2 separate regions of the Homo sapiens genome follow, and region 2 is reported to be linked to region 1. Evidence: microRNA targets listed by miRTarBase, many of them from high-throughput screens and not tested one by one. Region 1 holds a microRNA gene; the other region holds the end of a gene's coding sequence. Distances are from middle to middle.

Region 1 (9,638 bases):
CTGGAATGCCCCCATCCACCCAGACCCGCAGGGCCTCCTGGATATCCATCCAGCACTGTGCCTCAGGCAGCCACGGGCTGTGCAGGAGACACCTGAAGTGGCAGCCCCAGGAGCACTGGCGAGGTGGCATGGGGCACGGCCTCCCCAGGGCACTGGGGTCACCGTGGGCATGGAGGTCAGTCAGTGAGCTGGCTGGGCAGGGGCACGAGAGCCTGGATGCAGGCTTGGTGGAGTGCACATCACCGAGCAGGTGCGGGTACTCATGTTTGTGCTTTAAAAGGATTTTTTTTTTTTTCCGAGACAGAGTGTTGCTCTGCCACCCAGGCTGGAGTGCAGTGGCGCAATCTCGACTCACTGCAACCTCCGCTCCCGGGTTCAGGCAGTTCTCCTGCCTCAGCCTCCCGAGTAGCTGGGACTATAGGCACACACCACCATGCCCGGCTAATTTTTGTATTTTTAGTAGACACGGGGTTTCATCATGTTGGCCAGACTGGTGTCAAACTCCTGACCCCGGGTGATCTGCCTGCCTGGGCCTCCCAAAGTGCTGGGATTATAGGCGTGAGCCACCACACCCAACCTTAGAAGGAATATTGGGAGTCTGGGCATGGTGGCTCATGCCTGTAATCCCAACACTTTGAGAGGCCCAGGTGGGCGGATCACCTGAGGTTAGGAGTTCAAGGCCAGCCTGGCTAACGTGGTGAAATCCCATCTCTACCAAAATAGAAAAATTAGCCGGGTGTGGTGGCAGATGCTTGTAGTACCAGCTACTAGGGAGGTTGAGGCGGAAGAATCGCCTGAACCCGGGAGGTGAAGGTTGAGGTGAACCTAGATTGTGCCACTGCATTCCAGCCTGGGCAACAGAGTGAGACTCCTCAAAAACAAAGGATTATTGGGAAAAGTGGACTGGTGAGGGGTAAGTGGTGAGTCACTGGGTGCTGTGGACTGGGACCTGGCAGGCCCCCCAGAGGAGCAGGGGTTCAAATGCCTGGAGGCTGCTGCTATCTCCCCTAGTCCTCCTGCTGCCGCCATGACTGTCGTTGGTCACGGAACTCTTCCCTCTGCTCCACCCTCAACTGTCATTGGCCAGGTGTAGGGACCCATATAGTGTTATATCAAGATTGTTGCCAATCTAGAGTTACCGAGGCAGACGGGCAGACTGGGAGCAAGGTCTGGACTGCAACCTTCTGTGCTGAGCCCAGCCTTAGGGTGGTCAGGGTGGATGAGCAAGGAGATCCTGGCCCCAGGCTGGCCTGGCTTCAAGCTAGCCAGGAAGGAGAGGAAAGGAGGCCCAAGAGGCGTTCGACCTGCCTGAGGCCATGTGTGGGACTCTGTCCTGCGTTTTGTCAGCCCAGGCTGCTCTCCTAAGCTCCGATGAAGTCTCTTCCCTGGGCCTGGTGCTCCACGTCTCCCTGTCTCTTCCCTGGGGCCTGGGGCTGAGTCAGGCCTGGGGGCTGGTGGGCACTGAGGTGACAGGTCAGCAGGGCTCGAGGAGATGGTGGAGGCCTGTGCAGAGGGAATGACTGAACTGGAAGAAGCTGCAGAAGGGCATTGGAGGAGAGGGACTAGCATCTGTGCCTGGGAGTGATGGTGGTGAGGGCCTGCGGGAGAGGCACCCTTGGCCTCTTGTGCCGGCTCTGCTCTGTTCTCAGCATCCTCTGTAGTGACTTGGGGGTAGCAGTGGCCTCTGCCTTAGCTGGTGATGCGGTTGTCAGGAGGCAGGTAATGAGCGTGAGCTCTGGTCAGTGTCTTAACTGGTGAGAGCTCCGTGAAGGCTGTCTGCTGGGACCAGATGGCCTTCGAGATTCCAGGATGCCGCCTGACTTACCGGGCTTTGGTTGCCCCTTGTCCTGTGTGGCGGAGTGATGACAGCTTTCTTGGGGGCTGCTGGTGAGCTTGGACATCATGTGCACAGCACACATGCAGAGCCAGGACCATTGTCATCAAGTGCCCAGAGCACAGGTCACAGGTCAGGTCTGTAGTGGAAGGTCTGTGTGGAGGCTTTCTAGGGCTCTGCGGAGCAGTGATGTAGTACAGGGCAGGGGCTCAGAATGGAGTTGCCTGGCATCTTGTTAATACTCTGTGTGTGTTTCCTTATTGCCAGTGAGTTCCCATGCACGAGCGTTTAGGGGCTGGAACCAGGCTGAGGAACCAGGCACTGTCCTCCAGAGGGCGGGAGCCAGCTCCAGATGGGGACAGGGTCAGGGCCGGGTGTTGCCAGCTTTGTTCTTCCCCCACAGAATCTGTCTATCCCACCCTGGGTTCCTTCAGGTCCTGGTCAGTGACTATTCTGGGAGCCCCTCCCTTCCAACTTTTCCTCTTCCTTGTTCCAGCCCAGGTGCTGGGTGAGAGGATGGTTGGGGTGTGTTTGTGTGTGAGTGGTGTCCAGGCAACGGCCACAGCCTGGAGATGCACAGACTTCCTCTCTTCCCCCTGCCGCCGCCCCATGCCTCCCACGTAGCCTTGGGGGATTTGCTGGGCCAAGCAGCAGCCGTGTGCTGGAAGTCATCGGGCATCTGAGTTTGTTGAGCAAATACAGGTTGAAGCAAATTTGAAGCCAGAGGTTAAGGCCCTGCCTCTGCAGTGTCTCTCCCAAAAGTAGGGATAGTGGACCCAGACCCTCATGGGGAGACAGGGCCCGAGGCCCCTCAGTGCACAGGGTCCAGCCTCTTCTCGCAGGCCCTGCACATGGTCCACACCTGGGGACTTCACCAGGCCTGAGGCCTCAGGTGTGAAATGACCCCCTGGACCTCAGGCGAGGCGGCCGGGAGGCTGGAGATGGGGGAAGAGGGGCAGGCTCGAGGGCAACTGCAGGAGCCTGGTGCTCACTGGGAGCCTTAAGCCTGAGTGATGGAGGCAGTGAGCCTGCGGGCAGTCCCGGGGCGGGGCCGGGCTCAGCATGAGGCAGAGGGCTGGGACTTGGGGAGAGGCTGTGCCCAAGGTGGGCACTCAGCCCCTGTGGTCAGTGCCTCGTCCAGTGGGGACTCCCTGGGGCGTCTGACGCGGCGCTGGTTGTGTCTATGCCTGCAGGGCGCCATGTTTTGGAAGTTTGACCTGCACACAAGCTCGCACCTGGACACGCTGCTGGAGCGGGAGGACCTGAGCCTGCCCGAGCTGCTGGACGAGGAAGACGTGCTGCAGGAGTGCAAGGTCGTCAACCGCAAGCTGCTGGACTTCCTGCTGCAGCCACCCCACCTGCAAGCAATGGTGGCCTGGGTCACCCAGGAGCCGCCAGATAGCGGTGAGGAGCGGCTGCGCTACAAGTGAGTTCCCCAGCTCCTGGCCAGCCCGTCCCTATCAGCATCACACATACCTTCACTACGCAAGCCTCACAGCTACCCTGAAATGCGTCAGTGTCAGTAAACTCCAGTTTGGGGATGAGGAAGACGAGGCTGGGAGCAGCCAGGCTCCTGCACAAGGCCTCACAGCTCACCGGGTGCAGACCAAGCCTGTGCTCTGGAGGGCAGTGGCACAGTCACGGGTCACGGCAGCCACAAATTCACGGGCCCAGGTGATCCTCCCGCCTCAGTTGCCCGAGTAGCTGGGACCACAGGCATGTGACGACATGCCCGGCTGGTTTTTCTCTTTATTCGCCGCCTTTTATTTTATTTACTTTTTATTAAACTTTTTTTGTATGTTTGTGAAACACTTGTCTGCTATTGAAGACACTTTACTTATTTTTTAATCCAAGCGATGCTGAAAAGACACTTTTTTTTTTTTTTTTGAGACTCACTTTATCACCAGGTTGGAGTGCAGAGGCATGATCGGCTCACTGCAACCTCCTCCTCCCAAGTTCAAGTGATTCTCCTGCCTCACCCTCCTAAGTAGCTGGGACTATAAGCCAGCACGCCCAGCTAATTTTTGTATTTTTGGTAGAGACAGGGTTTCGCCATGTTGCCCAGGCTGGTCTTGAACTTCTGACCTCAAGTGATATGCCTGCCTCAGCCTCCCAAGGGGTACCTCCCCACAGTCCTGGAGCAGACTGTGGCCCCTCAGGGCCTTGAGTGGCACGCTGGTGGGGCAGCTCTTGTCTTGGAGCCGTCAGGCACCGTGTGAAAGTTTGGAGGAGGGAGGCAGGAGGTGAGGTTGGAAGTTGAGCAAGGTTCCAGGAGTCAGCCGGAGCTGGGGCAGCATACGGGGTTGCAAGTGAAGCCGCTGAGAGGCAAAAGGGATGAGTGTTAGCTGCTGGGGGATTGGGAAGCGCAGGAGCTTCAGGACCAGCTTGTCTTGGGGGTGGTAAGGAGCCTAGGATGGGATGGTTGGGTGTTAGCAGGGTGGAGGAGGCCTGGTGTGGGCCCTTGTTTCTGCGTCACCCTGTCCTCTGCCCTTTCCCCTTCCTGGACAGGGGTCTCTGCAGTTCCCAGAAACCCAGTGCCCGGTGCAGAGAAGAGGGTGGAGCCTTGCCGCCCCCTGCCCCCGGCCTCCGACCCGAGCCCCCACCCGCCTGTGCTTGCCTCCCAGGTACCCCAGTGTGGCCTGCGAGATTCTGACCTCAGATGTGCCCCAGATCAATGATGCCCTGGGTGCTGATGAGTCCCTTCTGAACCGGCTCTACGGCTTCCTGCAGAGCACCGGCAGCCTCAACCCACTGCTGGCCAGCTTCTTCAGCAAGGTCATGGGCATCCTCATCAACCGCAAGACAGACCAGGTGCCCTGGCCCCCACCCTGGCGCCACCGTGGGTTGAGGGGTGGTGGCTGGGCCAGGCCCTGTGCATGACGCAGCCCGTGTGCCCCCAGCTCGTGTCCTTTCTTCGGAAGAAGGATGACTTCGTGGACCTGCTGCTGCAGCACATTGGCACCTCGGCCATCATGGACCTCCTGCTGCGCCTGCTCACCTGTGTGGAGCGGCCTCAGCTGAGGCAGGATGTTGTCAATGTGAGCAGGGCCGGCTCCTCTGGGGGTGGGGGGCTGGGCGTGGTGGACAGCGATGCATCCCTCGCCTTCTCACCCTCAGTGGCTCAACGAGGAGAAGATCGTCCAGCGGCTGATTGAGCAGATCCACCCGTCGAAGGATGAGAATGTGAGTGCTGCCGATGCCCCTGCGGATTCCCCTTAGAGTTCCTTCCCCATGCCCACTTCCCCACTTTTAAAAGAGGAATTGGGGCTGGACGCAGTGGCTCACGCCTGTAATTCCAGCACTTTGGGAGGGCGAGGTGGGAGGATTACTTGAGCCCATGAGTTTGAGACCAGCTTGGGCAACATAGTAACACCCCGTCTCTACGTAAAAACTTAGCTGAGTGTGGTGTTGCACACCTGTAGTCCCAGCTACTTGGGAAGCTCAGGTAGGAGGATTGCTTGAGCCGGGAGGTCAAGGCTATAGTGAGTCATGATCACACCACTGCACTCCAGCCTGGGTGACACAGTGAGACCCTGTCTCAAAAAAAAAAAAAGAAAGAAAAGAAATTGGTGAGAAAAGAGAGCATTGAGAACCAGGTGTATCCATGCCCTTTGAGAAAAGGAAAGAAACTTGACTCAAGTGATTCTCCCACTGTGGCCTCCGAAAGTGCTGGAAAGGTTTTTTTCATGACCCAGGAACTTGGCACATAATGCCTTGCAGGGAGGGGCCCTCCTCATCGCCTGTCCAAGCGCTGGCCCCACATCCGTCCCTGCCCACCCTGGCCTGTGCTATTGCTGGGCCTGGCAGCTTTTTCCCTGTCTCCTGCCTGATTGAACCCCTTGCTGTCCTTCTAAGTGTCCGTCCAGCAGCCTTGCTTTCAAGCGCCCTCACATCCTCCCCTTTAGCTCTGGGGGACCCCATGTCCATGTGTTTCTCCAGCTTGGGTCTCCATCTCTGTCCTGGTGCCCAGCACAGGGCCTAGTGTAGAGTGGGTGTTTGTCAAGAGCCTCAGATATCCGAGGCCACTGGGAGCAACATGTCCTTCCCAATGCCAACTTCTGCCTCAGAGGCGCACAGGCTTACAGAGCAGAGATGGCTCTGGGCTCACCCAGGCTGGGGCCTGTCCCTGTGAGGACCCTGAGGCATGGCCCAGGGCCACACTGCCAAGCCCTGGCAGCTGCCCGTTGGGTAGACTCAGCTCTGCTTATGCTTCTCTCTTTTCTCTCTTTTGTAGCAGCTTTACTGAGATGTAAATTGCACAGCATACCACTCACCCACCGAAGCTTACGATTCAGCGCTTTTAGGGTATTCAAAGCGTTTATCATCTTGTTGAATTTAGATTATTTTTTATCACTCCAAAAAACAAGTCCTGCCTGTAATCCCAGCGCTTTGGCAGGTGAGGCTGGAGGATTGCTTGAGCCCAGGAGTTTGAGACTAGCCTGGGCAACATAGCAAGACGTTGTCGCTACAAAAAATTGAAAAATTAGCTGGCATTGGTGGTGCACACCTGTAATCCTAGCTACTCAAGAGTCTGAGACGGGAGGATCTCTTGGGCCCAGGAGTTCAGGGCTGCAGTGAGCTGTGATGGCACCACTGCGCTCAAGCCTGGGGTGATGTAGAGGCCGTGTCTTTTTTTTGAGACAGTGTCTTGCTCTGTTGCCCAGGCTGGAGTGCAGTGGCGTGATCTTGCCTCACTGTAGCCTTGACCCCCCTGGGCTCAAGCAATCCTCCTGCCTCTGCCTCATGAACAGCTGGAACTAGAGATGCACACCACCATTCTTGGCTAATTTTTTTGTATTTGTAGAGATAGAGTTTTGCTATGTTGCCCCGACTGGTCTCAAACTCCTGGGCTCAAGTGATCCTGCCACCTTGGCCTTTCTTTTTTTTTTTTTTTTTTTGAGATGGAGTCTCGCTCTGTCTAGAGTGCAGTGGCACGATCTCGGCTCACTGCAGCCTCCACCTCCCAGGTTCAAGCGATTCTCCTGCCTCAGCCTCCCGAGTAGCTGGGACTACAGGCGCCTACCACTGCGCCTGGCTAATTTTTTTATTTTTAGTAGAGATGGGGTTTCACCATGTTGGCCAGGCTGGTCTCAAACTCCTGACCTCGTGATCCACCTGCCTCGGCCTCCCAAAGTGCTGGGATTACAGGCGTGAGCCACCGCGCCCGGCCCCACCTCGGCCTTTCAGACTGCTGGGATTATAGGCATGTGCCATCACACCCAGCCGAGACCCTTTCTCCAGAAAAAATAAAAAAGATGCCCTGTGTTCATTAGCAGCTCCTCCTGATCTTCCCCTTTCTCTTCTTAGCCCCCGGCAACCACCAGACTATTCTGTCTCTGTGGATTTGTCTTTGGACATTTCATATAATTGGAATCATGTACTACGTGATCTGTGTGTGGTTTCTTTCTCTAGCATGATGTTTTTGTGGCTCATTCATGTGGTTGCATGTATCAGTTTCACTCCTTTTCCTGGCTGATTAGCACTCTCCTGTGTGGATAGACCAGCTTGGGCATATTCACTCATCAGTCAGAGCCTTCTGGGTCATTGTGGGCGGTGCTGCCAGCCCTGTATGCGGTCATGAGGGCCTTGTGTGGATGCCTCCTGTCCTGGGGAGCCTTCCGGGCTTCCTGTTCTCTCCACCATCTTCCCTCCAGCAGTTGGTGCCTCTGTGCCCTCCTCCTTCGTAACACGTGTCCCTGTGTCTGGGTGACCATTTTTCCCTGGATGGTCAGCTCATGGGAGGGGCTCCCAGCACCAGGCTGCAGAGGGCCCGGTGGCCCGACCAGGATCCTCACCTGTCTCTCCCCGTTCCAGCAACATTCCAACGCATCCCAGTCCCTGTGTGACATCATCCGCCTGAGCCGGGAGCAGATGATCCAAGTCCAGGACAGCCCAGAGCCTGACCAACTGCTGGCCACCCTGGAGAAGTGGGTGTGCGGGCAAGGCTAAGGCTGGGGGGAGCTGACTTGGGGAAGCCCTGGGCCCCTGGCCCCTCACCCTGACCCCTGCCCCTGCCCCCGCAGGCAGGAGACGATTGAGCAGCTCTTAAGCAACATGTTCGAGGGGGAGCAGAGCCAGTCTGTCATCGTCAGTGGGATCCAGGTGCTGCTGACCCTGCTGGAGCCCAGGAGGCCGAGGTGAGGGATACGGGCCACAGACCATGCATGCTGCCCATCCCCAGGGGCTCTCCGGCCCCTCAGAGGCGGGTCTCGGTGTCCACCAAGAGAAATCCCCGCCCGTGGCACCTTGCTCTGTGGCTGCCTGTGCTCCCTGCACAGTGGACAGTACGGGGCCGAGGGAGGAATCTTCTTGTCTGCTTTGACAAGTGAGGGCACTGAGGCTGAGGCCACTGCTGCAGCTTGTGTTGGGAGGGACCCCAGGCCCCCGTGCCCCTGCCTTACCACACAGGCCGCTAGCCTGTTGGGTTTGCCTTCCCGCCTCCACCCCTCACCCGTGCTCTCACAGTGGACTGCCAATGCTGCCGCCTGGCGGGCTCCCCACCCCAGCCAGGTGTTGTCTGAAGGGCCTCAGAAGAGAGCGGCGCTGGGGGCATGTGGCTCCTCGTTTTCCTCCAGACCCTGCAGACGTGGTCCTTGTGCCTACTCCTGTGTGGGCGCACAGGCCATCTAGGCTCACTCCGCCTTCGACCCTGCCCTGCTGCAGGTCCGAGTCCGTGACCGTGAACAGCTTCTTCAGCAGTGTGGATGGGCAGCTGGAGCTCCTGGCCCAGGGGGCCCTGGAAAGCACTGTGTCCAGTGTGGGCGCCTTGCACGCCCTACGCCCGCGGCTCAGCTGCTTCCACCAGCTCCTGCTGGAGCCTCCCAAGGTCAGGGGTGTGGGTTCTGGTCCTCGGGGAGGCGGGGGAAGCAGGAAGGGCAGCCCTTGGGAATCAGGCCTCCCTGTGTCTGCAGCTGGAGCCGCTACAGATGACATGGGGCATGCTGGCTCCGCCTCTGGGCAACACGCGGCTGCACGTGGTCAAGCTCCTGGCCAGTGCCCTGAGCGCCAATGATGCAGCCCTGACGCACGAGCTCCTGGCACTGGACGTGCCCAACACCATGCTGGTGCGGGGACTGGACCGGGCTGGGGGTTCAGGGGCTGGGGCGGGGACTGGACTGGGCTGAGGGTTCGGGGGCTGGGGTGGGGGCTCGGCTGGGGGCTCAGGGGTTGGGGGCTCGGCTGGGGCGGGGCCTCTCTGGTACCAATCCTGTGTCCTCCCATAGGACCTCTTCTTCCATTATGTCTTCAACAACTTCTTGCATGCCCAAGTAGAGGGATGCGTGAGCACCATGCTGAGCTTGGGGCCACCTCCTGACAGCAGCCCTGAGACGCCCATCCAAAACCCTGTTGTGAAACATGTGAGCTGGGACTCCCTGGTCCCCCTCCTTCTGGGCCCATCCCCTGTGGGCGCACCCTCTCCAGAGGCCTACCCCTCACTCCTTCCTCCCACAAGTGTTTGTTGGGTAGTGTTAGGTGCCAGCGCCCAGATGGGGTGTGGGAGGCATGGCCAGGGAGAAACGCGGATGAAACATGCAGGTGCAGGGAGCAGTGGGCTCCTGACTTGAGCTGAAGAGCTAGGGGTGGGCGGGAGCAGACCTGCGAGCAGCTGAGTGTGCATGAGTGCGCACACGTGCGTGTGTGAGCATGTGTCAGTGCAAGCGTGTGTGAGAGCATGTATGTGTGTGAGTGCACACGAGTATGTGAACATGTATGTGTGAGCATGTGTGTGTCCGTTAGTGCATGCATGTGTGTGTGTGTGTGTGTGTGTGTGTGTGTGTGTGTGTGTGTATGCACCACATATTCT
Region 2 (9,644 bases), 55 Mb from region 1:
GCGCACTTTCAGCCGGCACGTGGTGCAGAGGCAGCGGGTCAGTGGCCAGGTGCAGGCGCTGCAGAACCACTACAGGAAGTACCTCTGCTTGCTGGCCTCCGACGCCGAGGTGAGGCTCGCACCCCCTCTCCTCCTGGCTGGGGCCAGTGGTGGGTGGGCGCTCTCCCTCCCTGGAGCAGCCGGGTTTGCACCCAAGCTTCAGTCTGTTCATCTGTATGCTTGGGCTGACAGATGCCCCACCGGGCGTCAGGCACGGGCGGTGGGGCATCTAGCTCAGGGGCCCCGGTGCCCAGCGCCCTGACCGCCCTGTCCTACAGGTGCCCGAGCCCTGCCTGCCGCGGCAGTACTGGGAGGAGCTGGGGGCGCCCGAGGCCCTGCGGGAGCAGCCCTGGCCCCTGCCAGTGCAGATGGAGCTGGGCAAGCTGCTGGCGGAGATGCTGGTGCAGGCTACGCAGATGCCATGCAGCCTGGACAAGCCGCATCGTTCCTCTCGGCTTGTCCCCGTGCTCTACCACGTGTATTCCTTCCGCAACGTCCAGCAGGTGCCAGGCAGTGCCCTCCTGAGCTGGGGGGCATCCCGCTGGGAGGACCAGGGACCCCATGGGGTTGGCGCCTTTGGGCGGAGCCTTGATCTCAGCGCAGCCGTCAGTACCTCCCAGGACTCGGGACACACCATGGGTGTCCATGCAGGTGTCCGGCCGTTTCTGGAGGTGGCTTCTGTTCGTGGGAGGCCACACTGGTTTCTTGTTGGCCGGGGAGCCGGCCCCTCTCACCCAAGTTTAAGGGGTGGGAACAGGAAAGCCCCAGCACCGGGGCCCTGACCCGTCTGCCTGTCGCACCCCAGATCGGCATCCTGAAGCCGCACCCGGCCTACGTGCAGCTGCTGGAGAAGGCCGCGGAGCCCACGCTGACCTTCGAGGCGGTGGATGTACCCATGCTTTGCCCCCCGCTGCCCTGGACATCGCCGCACTCTGGTGCTTTCCTGCTCAGCCCCACCAAGCTGATGCGCACGGTGGAAGGCGCCACGCAGCACCAGGAGCTGCTGGAAACCTGCCCGCCCACCGCGCTGCATGGCGCACTGGACGCCCTCACCCAACTGGGCAACTGCGCCTGGCGCGTCAACGGGCGCGTGCTGGACCTGGTGCTGCAGCTCTTCCAGGCCAAGGGCTGCCCCCAGCTAGGCGTGCCGGCCCCGCCCTCCGAGGCGCCCCAGCCGCCCGAGGCCCACCTGCCGCACAGCGCCGCGCCCGCCCGCAAGGCCGAGCTGCGCCGTGAGCTGGCGCACTGCCAGAAGGTGGCCCGGGAGATGCACAGCCTGCGGGCGGAGGCGCTGTACCGCCTCTCGCTGGCGCAGCACCTGCGGGACCGCGTCTTCTGGCTGCCGCACAACATGGACTTCCGCGGCCGCACCTACCCCTGCCCGCCGCACTTCAACCACCTGGGCAGCGACGTGGCGCGGGCCCTGCTGGAGTTCGCCCAGGGCCGCCCGCTCGGCCCGCACGGCCTGGATTGGCTCAAGATCCACCTGGTCAATCTCACGGGGTTGAAGAAGCGGGAGCCGCTGCGGAAGCGCCTGGCCTTTGCGGAGGAGGTGATGGATGACATCCTGGACTCCGCGGACCAACCCTTGACGGTAGGGGCGGGGCCCCCGCATTCCCCGCCCTCCCGGCACCCCCGCGCCCTCCCCCGGCGCCCCCGCGCCCTCCCCCGGCGCCCCCGCGCCCCCTGCCCGTCTTCCTCCTCCCCTCCCCCTCCCCTGGCGCCCCCTGCCCGTCTTCCTCCTCCCCTCCCCCTCCCCTGGCGCCCCCACGTCCCCCGCCCGCTCTCCTCCCCCGCGCCCCCTGCCCGTCCTGCTTCTCCCTTCTCCCCTGCCCCAGGGCCCCCGCGTTCCCCACGTTCCCCCCTCCCCTGCATCCGCCGAGCTGCTTCCTCCCCCGGCGCCCCCAGGTCCTCTGTCCACCCTCCTCCCCCGGCAGCTCCGGACACGCTTGTTTCAGCCCGGTCCACCCGCAGCTCCCATCCTCCATCCGTGGCTATGGAGAACTCATCCAGCCACCGCCCCGTCTCTCGCCCACATGCGTCCCGTGTTCACTATCACGGGTGTGCGTCTCCTCCCCATTTCCCACCTCCCCGCAACACAGCCTCCCAGCGGGCTCAGGGATCGGGCCCGGGCCTCACTGCCCCCCATCCGCTGTCCCCGCAGGGCCGAAAGTGGTGGATGGGCGCGGAGGAACCCTGGCAGACGCTGGCCTGCTGTATGGAGGTGGCGAACGCTGTGCGCGCCTCCGACCCTGCCGCCTATGTCTCCCACCTCCCCGTCCATCAGGTGAGCCAGCTGGGTCTGGCCCCCGAGGCCGTGCAGTGTGCACTGGGCCTGGGGCTCGACTTGAGGGTGTGAGATTTCACCTTCGCTCGTGGTATTCTCTGGAGGTGGTCCTAGAGTGTGCGGGAGCCATGGCTCCTGGTCTCTCCCGGGAGCGTGCGGGGGCTCCGGTGCACTTGGCTGGGGGGTGCACGGCCCTAGGAACGGCTCGACCTGGGGGGTGGTTTGGGGTCCCACACGTCTCTGCCTCTCTAGCTTCCATCTCCCGTTTGCCGCCCCTTCCTCAGGACGGCTCTTGCAACGGCCTGCAGCATTATGCTGCTCTGGGCCGCGACAGCGTGGGCGCCGCCTCCGTCAACCTGGAGCCCTCGGATGTGCCGCAGGACGTGTACAGCGGCGTGGCCGCGCAGGTAGGGTGTGCCCTGCTGCCCGGGGGCATCTCGGCGTGGGGGCAATGTGAGCCCTGAGTCTCGGCCCCAGGTGCCCTCACCTTGGCCTGTCCTGAGGATGTGGTGGGGCTGGGGCGGGGGCTTCATGGGTGCTTGGTGGCCCCTGGGCTGCTAGCGGGGCTGACCCGCGCCCCCGGCCCACCCGCCGTGCAGGTGGAGGTGTTCCGTAGGCAGGACGCCCAGCGGGGCATGCGGGTGGCACAGGTGCTGGAAGGTTTCATCACCCGCAAGGTGGTGAAGCAGACGGTGATGACGGTGGTGTACGGGGTCACGCGCTATGGCGGGCGCCTGCAGATTGAGAAGCGCCTCCGGGAGCTGAGCGACTTTCCCCAGGTGCGCCAGGCATGTCGCGCTGCGAACACGTTGGTTTCACTGCCATTTAAAACTCAGACGGGTGTGCCCCCGACCCAGCCTCCCAGCAGGAGCCCTGGCTGCTCCCCCAGACCACTGGCTGCCTGTTAGGGCTTGGGCGTTTCTTGCTGACTGCGTGGGCGCCAGGCCCCATTCCCCTGCCCCCCTGCTAGGCCCTAGGCCTTGGGCCTCAGTGGCTCTGAAATAGGGGGGAGTAGGGCGTGAACGGGCCAGCCCCTGAGGACCTGCACCTGCTGCCCGCCCTCTGCAGGAGTTCGTGTGGGAGGCCTCTCACTATCTCGTACGCCAGGTCTTCAAGAGTCTACAGGAGATGTTCTCGGGGACCCGGGCCATCCAGGTACGTCCTGTCCTGTCCCCGCTCGGCCAGGACTCCCTAAGCAAGTGGACGGGATCCCCGGCCTGAGCCCCCTGCCCTGAGACGGCCTGTGTCCCACAGCACTGGCTGACCGAGAGTGCCCGCCTCATCTCCCACATGGGCTCTGTGGTGGAGTGGGTCACACCCCTGGGCGTCCCCGTCATCCAGCCCTATCGCCTGGACTCCAAGGTCAAGGTCAGTGTACCACCCCATCCCTCCCCAGTGTGCCACCATCCCAGTGTAACAGCGTCCCAGTGTACCAGTGCCCCAGCGTACCACCACCCCAGTGTACCACCGCCCCAGTGTGCCACCCCATCCCGCGCCAGTGTGCCACCATCCTAGCGTGCCACTACCCCAGTGTACCACCACCTCAATGTACCACCACCGTGCTGGGCCTCGGGTGGGACTCACCGGCCCCTTCCCCTTTTTAGCAAATAGGAGGTGGAATTCAGAGCATCACCTACACCCACAACGGAGACATCAGCCGGTGAGTGGGGGGCCCGGGCTGGGGCCTGGCCGGGGGTCTGGAGAGCAGCCACGGTGGAGACAGCGGCCAGTTAGGGGTGTCCCTGGGCCGCCCCCACCGGCACCTGTTCCGTCCTCAGAAAGCCCAACACACGTAAGCAGAAGAACGGCTTCCCGCCCAACTTCATCCACTCGCTGGACTCCTCCCACATGATGCTCACCGCCCTGCACTGCTACAGGTGGGCGTCTCCGGACGGCGTGGGTGCCGCTCGCCTCCCAGGGGCGTCTTCTGGCTAGCAGGGCACAGCTGGCAAGGCTGGGTCTAGCTGGGGGCAGGGACTGGGCAGAGTGGATCTGCTGTGTCTGTGGGGCCTGTGTAGAGGCCCTGAGGCTGTGTGCCCCGAATGTAGGTGGTCCTGGCAGCTCCCCTCCTGTGGCCCGACAGGGAGAGCCGAGCATGGGCGCTGCCCCTTCCTGCTGGGCATTTCTTGGCACCGCGATGTGTGGTTAGATCTGGAGCACGTGGAGGTCGTTCCAGCAGAATCTACCGGCCACGGGAGCTGGGAATGCTCAGGATGCGGGGTGGTGGCCCTGGCAGGAGGGGACCTCGTAGCCGCCCTCGGAGCTGAGGCTCCCACAGCAGCGTGGGGGGCGGCAGGGGTGGGGCGAGGAGGCTTCTGGGAACATTTCCTCCCCCTGTACTGATACCTAACCCAGGATGTTTGGGGAGGGGCGGGGCGAGGGGTGGGGCGAGGCCTGCAGGAGGGTGGGCTTCCCTGGACCTCAAGTGGAGGGGGCTGAGCGCAGGGCCAGGATGCTGGTCACTGGGTGGCCCTGTGAGCTCCCCTCCCTTCAGGAGTCCTCCGCTCTGCCACAGGAAGGGCCTGACCTTCGTCTCTGTGCACGACTGTTACTGGACTCACGCAGCTGATGTCTCCGTCATGAACCAGGTGCCCCCGTAGTCTGAGCCTCAGTCCACCCATGGGTGGGGCCCCCACACTGGGGCGTTGGGTAGGGGTGGTGCCCAGAGCCTGCCTGATCACCCCTGGGGATCCTCTGACTCCTGCCCAGGTGTGCCGGGAGCAGTTTGTCCGCTTGCACAGCGAGCCCATCCTGCAGGACCTGTCCAGATTCCTGGTCAAGCGGTTCTGCTCTGAGTAAGGCGCTCCCTGACCCCAACTACCTGGATTCCCCCCCCACCCCAAAACCTGGCCTCAGCCTCACCCCACCCTGCTTCCAACCCCAGGCCCCAGAAGATCTTGGAGGCCAGCCAGCTGAAGGAGACACTGCAGGCGGTGCCCAAGCCAGGTAGGCGGGTGGGCAGCCTCGCAAGGGTGGCTCGAACTGCGGGCCAGGGCGGGGCTTTCCCGCCACCCACGCCGTCCGCTCTGCTTCCTCCGCAGGGGCCTTCGACCTGGAGCAGGTGAAGCGTTCCACCTACTTCTTCAGCTGACACCCCGTGAGCCTTGTCAGTGTGTAAATAAAGCTCTTTTGCCACCCCCAGGAGCCACTGTCTTCAGGAAGGGTGCACGCCCTGCGGGTCTCGGGCAATCACACGCGGCCAGGCTTGGCGCCAATGCTGTCGTTTATTGCGCGGAATGGGGGTGTGGGGGTTAATGGGGCGTGGGGGGCCACGGTGGGGGCACTGCTGCCTCGGCTCGTCAGTACATTCATCACGGCGGCGGGACCCCAGCCTCCCCCCCGCGCCCTGCGCAGCCAGGCCTGCCTCTCGGTGCCAGTGCTGGAGGGAGGCGGGGTGCTGCTCCCCGAGGTCACCGGGGGACGCGCGCGGACGGGGGCCGGGCCGGTTATTGCGTGAGCGCGATGGGGGCAGCGGGAAGCCGGCGGGCCAAGTATTGCACTTAGAAAACGATCCTCCTCGGACGGGGGCCACCTAGAGGGTGGGGGGCGGGCGGGGCTCCACAGCCGGCTCCTCTCAGCCACTGGGCCGCCCCGTCCCTGTCTTACAGCTGGGGGAACTGAGGCACCGAGGTGAAGGGAGCCCCCTCGCACGCGAGGCCGCCGCCGGGGGCAGGGGCGATGGGGGTGGGCGCGGGGCGATGAGGGGGGACGGCCGGGGGCGCGGAGGGGGCTGCCCCGCCGGCCCTGCCCGTCCGTCCAACTACGGCTACCTACGTCTCGTCTATGGCTTCTGGGCGGACTGGCGGCCGGGGCAGCGCAATGGCATGGCTTTGGTCTGGATGACGGCCCCGCCCCCGGCCCGCCTGGGCCCGCGGGGCGGTCGGCGAGGGTCACAAGTTGGACGAGAGGCGCGAGCGCGCGGAGTCCTGGGGGTCCAGGCCGCCGGCGGCGCCGGGTGAGGCCGAGTCCCTGCGGTCCGGGCTGGGCGCGGCGGCCCGGGCAGCGGGCGTGGGCCCCAAGCGCGGTGTGGAGCTGCTGGCCGGGCGTGTGGAGGCCGCGGGGCCGGGGGCGCCGTGAGGCAGCGAGGGCTGCGAGGCGGACAGTGGGCGCGACGCGCGGCTCAGGCGGCGCGCGGGCAGGGCGGGCCCAGCAAGGGGGGCGGCGGGCAGGCCGCCGTAGGGCGAGGTCCGCGGTGCCCGGGGGCTGGCGGGCGCGCCCGGGGGGCTGGCGGGGGGCGGGGGCCCGGGTGAGGCGGCGGCAGGTGCGGGCCCCGGGGGCGGGCGGCGCACGAGGCGCGGCGAGCCGAGCGCCAGCGGCCCCACGAGCGGCCGCGCCACCTGCGGGCAGAAGCTCATGGCCGCCGCCTGCTGCAGCGTGGCGATGGCCGAGGTGACCTGCGGCGGCGGCGGCGGCGGCGGGAAGAGGCCCACGCGCTGACCCAGCTCGGCCTGCTGCACCATCTCGCGGTCGTACTTGACGATCTCCTGGATGATGGCGTTCTCCTGGTTGTTGAATACGCCCGAGTTGAGGTCATGCTGCACCTTGTGCAGGAGGATGGAATTCTTCTTGCCTGCGGGAGAGGGGGCGTTAGCGTGTGCACAGGGAGCGCCTGCTGCGTACAGCGGGCACCGAGCACCTACTCTGCACCGCGGGTGCGCACACAGTGCTTGCCGTGTAGAGCAAGCATGCATTTACCACCTACTGTATACAATAAGCACATATGTAGCATCTCTGGCCTATAGTATGGATATTGAGTACCTGCCATATACAGGCTGAGCACCTGCTATGCACAGCCAGCATGCATGAAGCACCTGCATACAGAAAGCAGGGCTTTTGTTTTGCTTTGTTTCTGAGACGGAGTCTTGCTCTGTCGCCCGGGCTGGAGTGCAGTGGCGCGATCTCGGCCCACTGCAAGGTCCACCTCCCGGGTTCACACCATTCTCCTGCCTCATCCTCCCGAGTAGCTGGGACTACAGGCGCCCGCCACCACACCCGGCTAATTTTTTGTATTTTTTTTTTAGTAGAGACGGGGTTTCACCATGTTAGCCAGGATGGTCTCAATCTCCTGACCTCGTGATCCACCCACCTTGGCCTCCGAAAGTGCTGGGACTACAGGCGTGAGCCACCGCGCCTGGCAGTAAACAGGTATTTAATGCCTGCTGTGTACATGGAGCAGGTATCACTGTGCACCAAGTATGCATGTGTACCACCTGTATACGCTGATTATGTAATGACTGCCTCCAGTGTGCCACAGGCATACCGAAAACACCTGCCTGTACACAGCCTGTGCTGAGCACCTGCTGTATACAGAAGTTATAACCTAAGCACCTGATACTCAGGAACGGGTTGCATACTCACTGTATAGAGCAAGTTGTGGAGAGCTTCCTACTGTACACCAGGGAGCTCCCTGACACCACTCCGTCGCACCTGTCCTGCGTTTCAGCCATGGTCTTCATTCCCATTCCCACGAACAGCAGCATGAGCCGCCATCTCTCTGGCGCCTACATCCAGTCATCAGGGCTCTGCCCCTCCCTGCCCCAGAGACTGCCCCCCTGAGAGGCCAGGTCACCGTCTCCCTCCTGGACACGGCCCGCCTTGGCGGATACAATCTGACCAGGTCCTCCGCCCACCTAGAACCCTCCATGGCTCCCTGATGCTCCTGATTTAGTCTAAACTCTCCCTGCCGCCCACTGGGCCCTGTGTGTCTGGCCTCCCCTTCTTCCCCAACCTCCTCCAGGCCTCCCTGGCTCTCTGGACTCTAGGCCTCTTTTCCACCTCAGGGCCTTGGGATGTGCTGTGTCCACTCCACGAACACATCTTCCTCCCCGTTTCCACATGGCATCCCTTACCCTGGTCTCCACTCTGCATTCCCAACTCAGGGAAGCCCACCGGCCCCACCTGCCCTGCTGGCACACAGCCCAGTCGTGTGTGATTTCATCACCAGTCCATAAGCCTCCCTGGGAGTCTGAGTGGGCCCCCGGGTCTGTCCCCTGCACCCCCAGCACACAGCAGGTGCTCACCGAGCATTCGGCACAACCGCAAACACCCTGTGCATTCCCTCCCTTGGGAAACAGGCTGCCTCTGGCTGAAGTAGGACAATAGGTCAGAAAATCAGCCTCTAGACCCAAAGGGGTCCTAGGAGCGGCCAGCCGCTGCCCCTGCCCCAGCCACGCCCCTGCTGCCATGGCCACACTCCTGATGCCTTGGCCACGTCTCTGCCCCAACCGTGCCCCTGATGCCACAGCCACGCCCTTCCCCCTGCCACTGTCCAAGCCACTCTCCTGATGCCTTGGCCACGCCCCTCCCCCGCCAGGGCACCCGCCCCGGCCACGCCCCCGGCCCGCTCACCGATGCGGTCCAGGCGGTCGATGGCCACCGTCTCGAAGGCGCGCCGCATCATGGGGTACTCCTCCAGCACCTCGTTGAAGTTGTCCACGCTCAGCGAATAGAGGCGGCAGTAGGTGTCAGCCCGCACGCTCGCCGTGCGGCGGCCCCGGGTGAGCAGGCAGATCTCTGCACGTGGCGCGCAGGGGGGGGTTGCTGGACGAGGCGGGCGCCGCGGCCCTCCCCGCCCAGGCACACGGCCCGGCCTCTGCACCTTGGCCAGCGTGGGCGCTTCCCACCCAGGCTCTCCCTGGTGCCGGCCCCGGCCCCATCCCCGGCCCCATCCCCGGCCCCATCCCCGGCCCCATCCCCATCCCCGGCCCCATCCCCATCCCCATCCCCGGCCCCATCCCCATCCCCATCCCCATCCCCGGCCCCATCCCCATCCCCATCCCCATCCCCGGCCCCGGCCCCGGCCCCGGCCCCCTGGCTCTGCACACCGCGGGGGTCGCGTGCCCCCTCCCCCTCCAGGCGCGCCCCCCTCAAGCTCACCCCCGAAGTAGGAGCCATCGGACAGCTTCATCTCCTTGTTGCCCTTAGTGAGCACGCTGACCACGCCGTGCTGGATGAAGTACATCTTCTTCCCGATGGTGCCTTCGCGGATGATGTAGTCACCCGGCTGGAAGACCTCGAACTTGAGCTTGGTCAGCATGGCCGTGACGAAGTTGGGGTCGGCGTTGGCGAACAGCGGCATGGAGGCCACCAGCTTCCGGCAGTTGAAGTTGACGATCTCCTGCAGGGGGGAGGCAGGGCTGGGTCCGCTGCGGACCCCACTCCCGCTTCCCCCTCGCCCTGCCTCTGGGACCGGCTCACCTCTCGGACCCCAGTTTCCTCGTCTGAGAGACGGGCTCAGCCCCGTAGCCGGAACCGAGCTGCTGCCGCCAAGGACGGGAGAAAGAAAAAACGCTCAGTGCCCCTTCGCCGTTTGACACCG

What was found. The annotated mature microRNA hsa-miR-6803-3p reads UCCCUCGCCUUCUCACCCUCAG and lies in region 1 at 4,930-4,951, shown strand. An mRNA with a match to its seed (bases 2 to 7 or 8) in the 3' UTR can be bound and repressed. Matches are read on the target gene's strand: a 7mer-m8 pairs with bases 2 to 8, a 7mer-A1 pairs with bases 2 to 7 and ends in A, and an 8mer does both.
Region 2: miRTarBase lists HCN2 as a target of hsa-miR-6803-3p. Seed matches in the 3' UTR shown: 7mer-m8 at 5,969-5,975.

What each region holds. Positions count from the first base shown.
Region 1 is chr19:55,240,499-55,250,136 of GRCh38, reverse strand. MIR6803 (microRNA 6803) reads left to right here and starts at 4,887; the gene lies at 4,887-4,951. It overlaps PPP6R1 (protein phosphatase 6 regulatory subunit 1), which reads left to right. Exons shown (of 24, transcript NM_014931.4): 2 at 3,028-3,260; 3 at 4,459-4,645; 4 at 4,735-4,872; 5 at 4,952-5,017; 6 at 7,649-7,761; 7 at 7,858-7,971; 8 at 8,498-8,660; 9 at 8,746-8,898; 10 at 9,058-9,192. The coding sequence starts at 3,034.
Region 2 is chr19:613,047-622,690 of GRCh38, reverse strand. It overlaps HCN2 (hyperpolarization activated cyclic nucleotide gated potassium and sodium channel 2), which reads right to left. Exons shown (of 8, transcript NM_001194.4): 6 at 9,203-9,443; 7 at 8,675-8,839; 8 at 5,532-6,896. The coding sequence ends at 6,217. It overlaps POLRMT (RNA polymerase mitochondrial), which reads left to right. Exons shown (of 21, transcript NM_005035.4): 8 at 1-109; 9 at 318-542; 10 at 845-1,633; 11 at 2,204-2,326; 12 at 2,611-2,733; 13 at 2,926-3,105; 14 at 3,395-3,481; 15 at 3,581-3,694; 16 at 3,931-3,986; 17 at 4,105-4,203; 18 at 4,842-4,914; 19 at 5,036-5,121; 20 at 5,211-5,272; 21 at 5,368-5,470. The coding sequence ends at 5,417. It overlaps LOC107987266 (a long non-coding RNA gene), which reads left to right and starts at 9,218. Exons shown (of 2, transcript XR_001753828.2): 1 at 9,218-9,644. RefSeq lists a silencer at 9,171-9,352.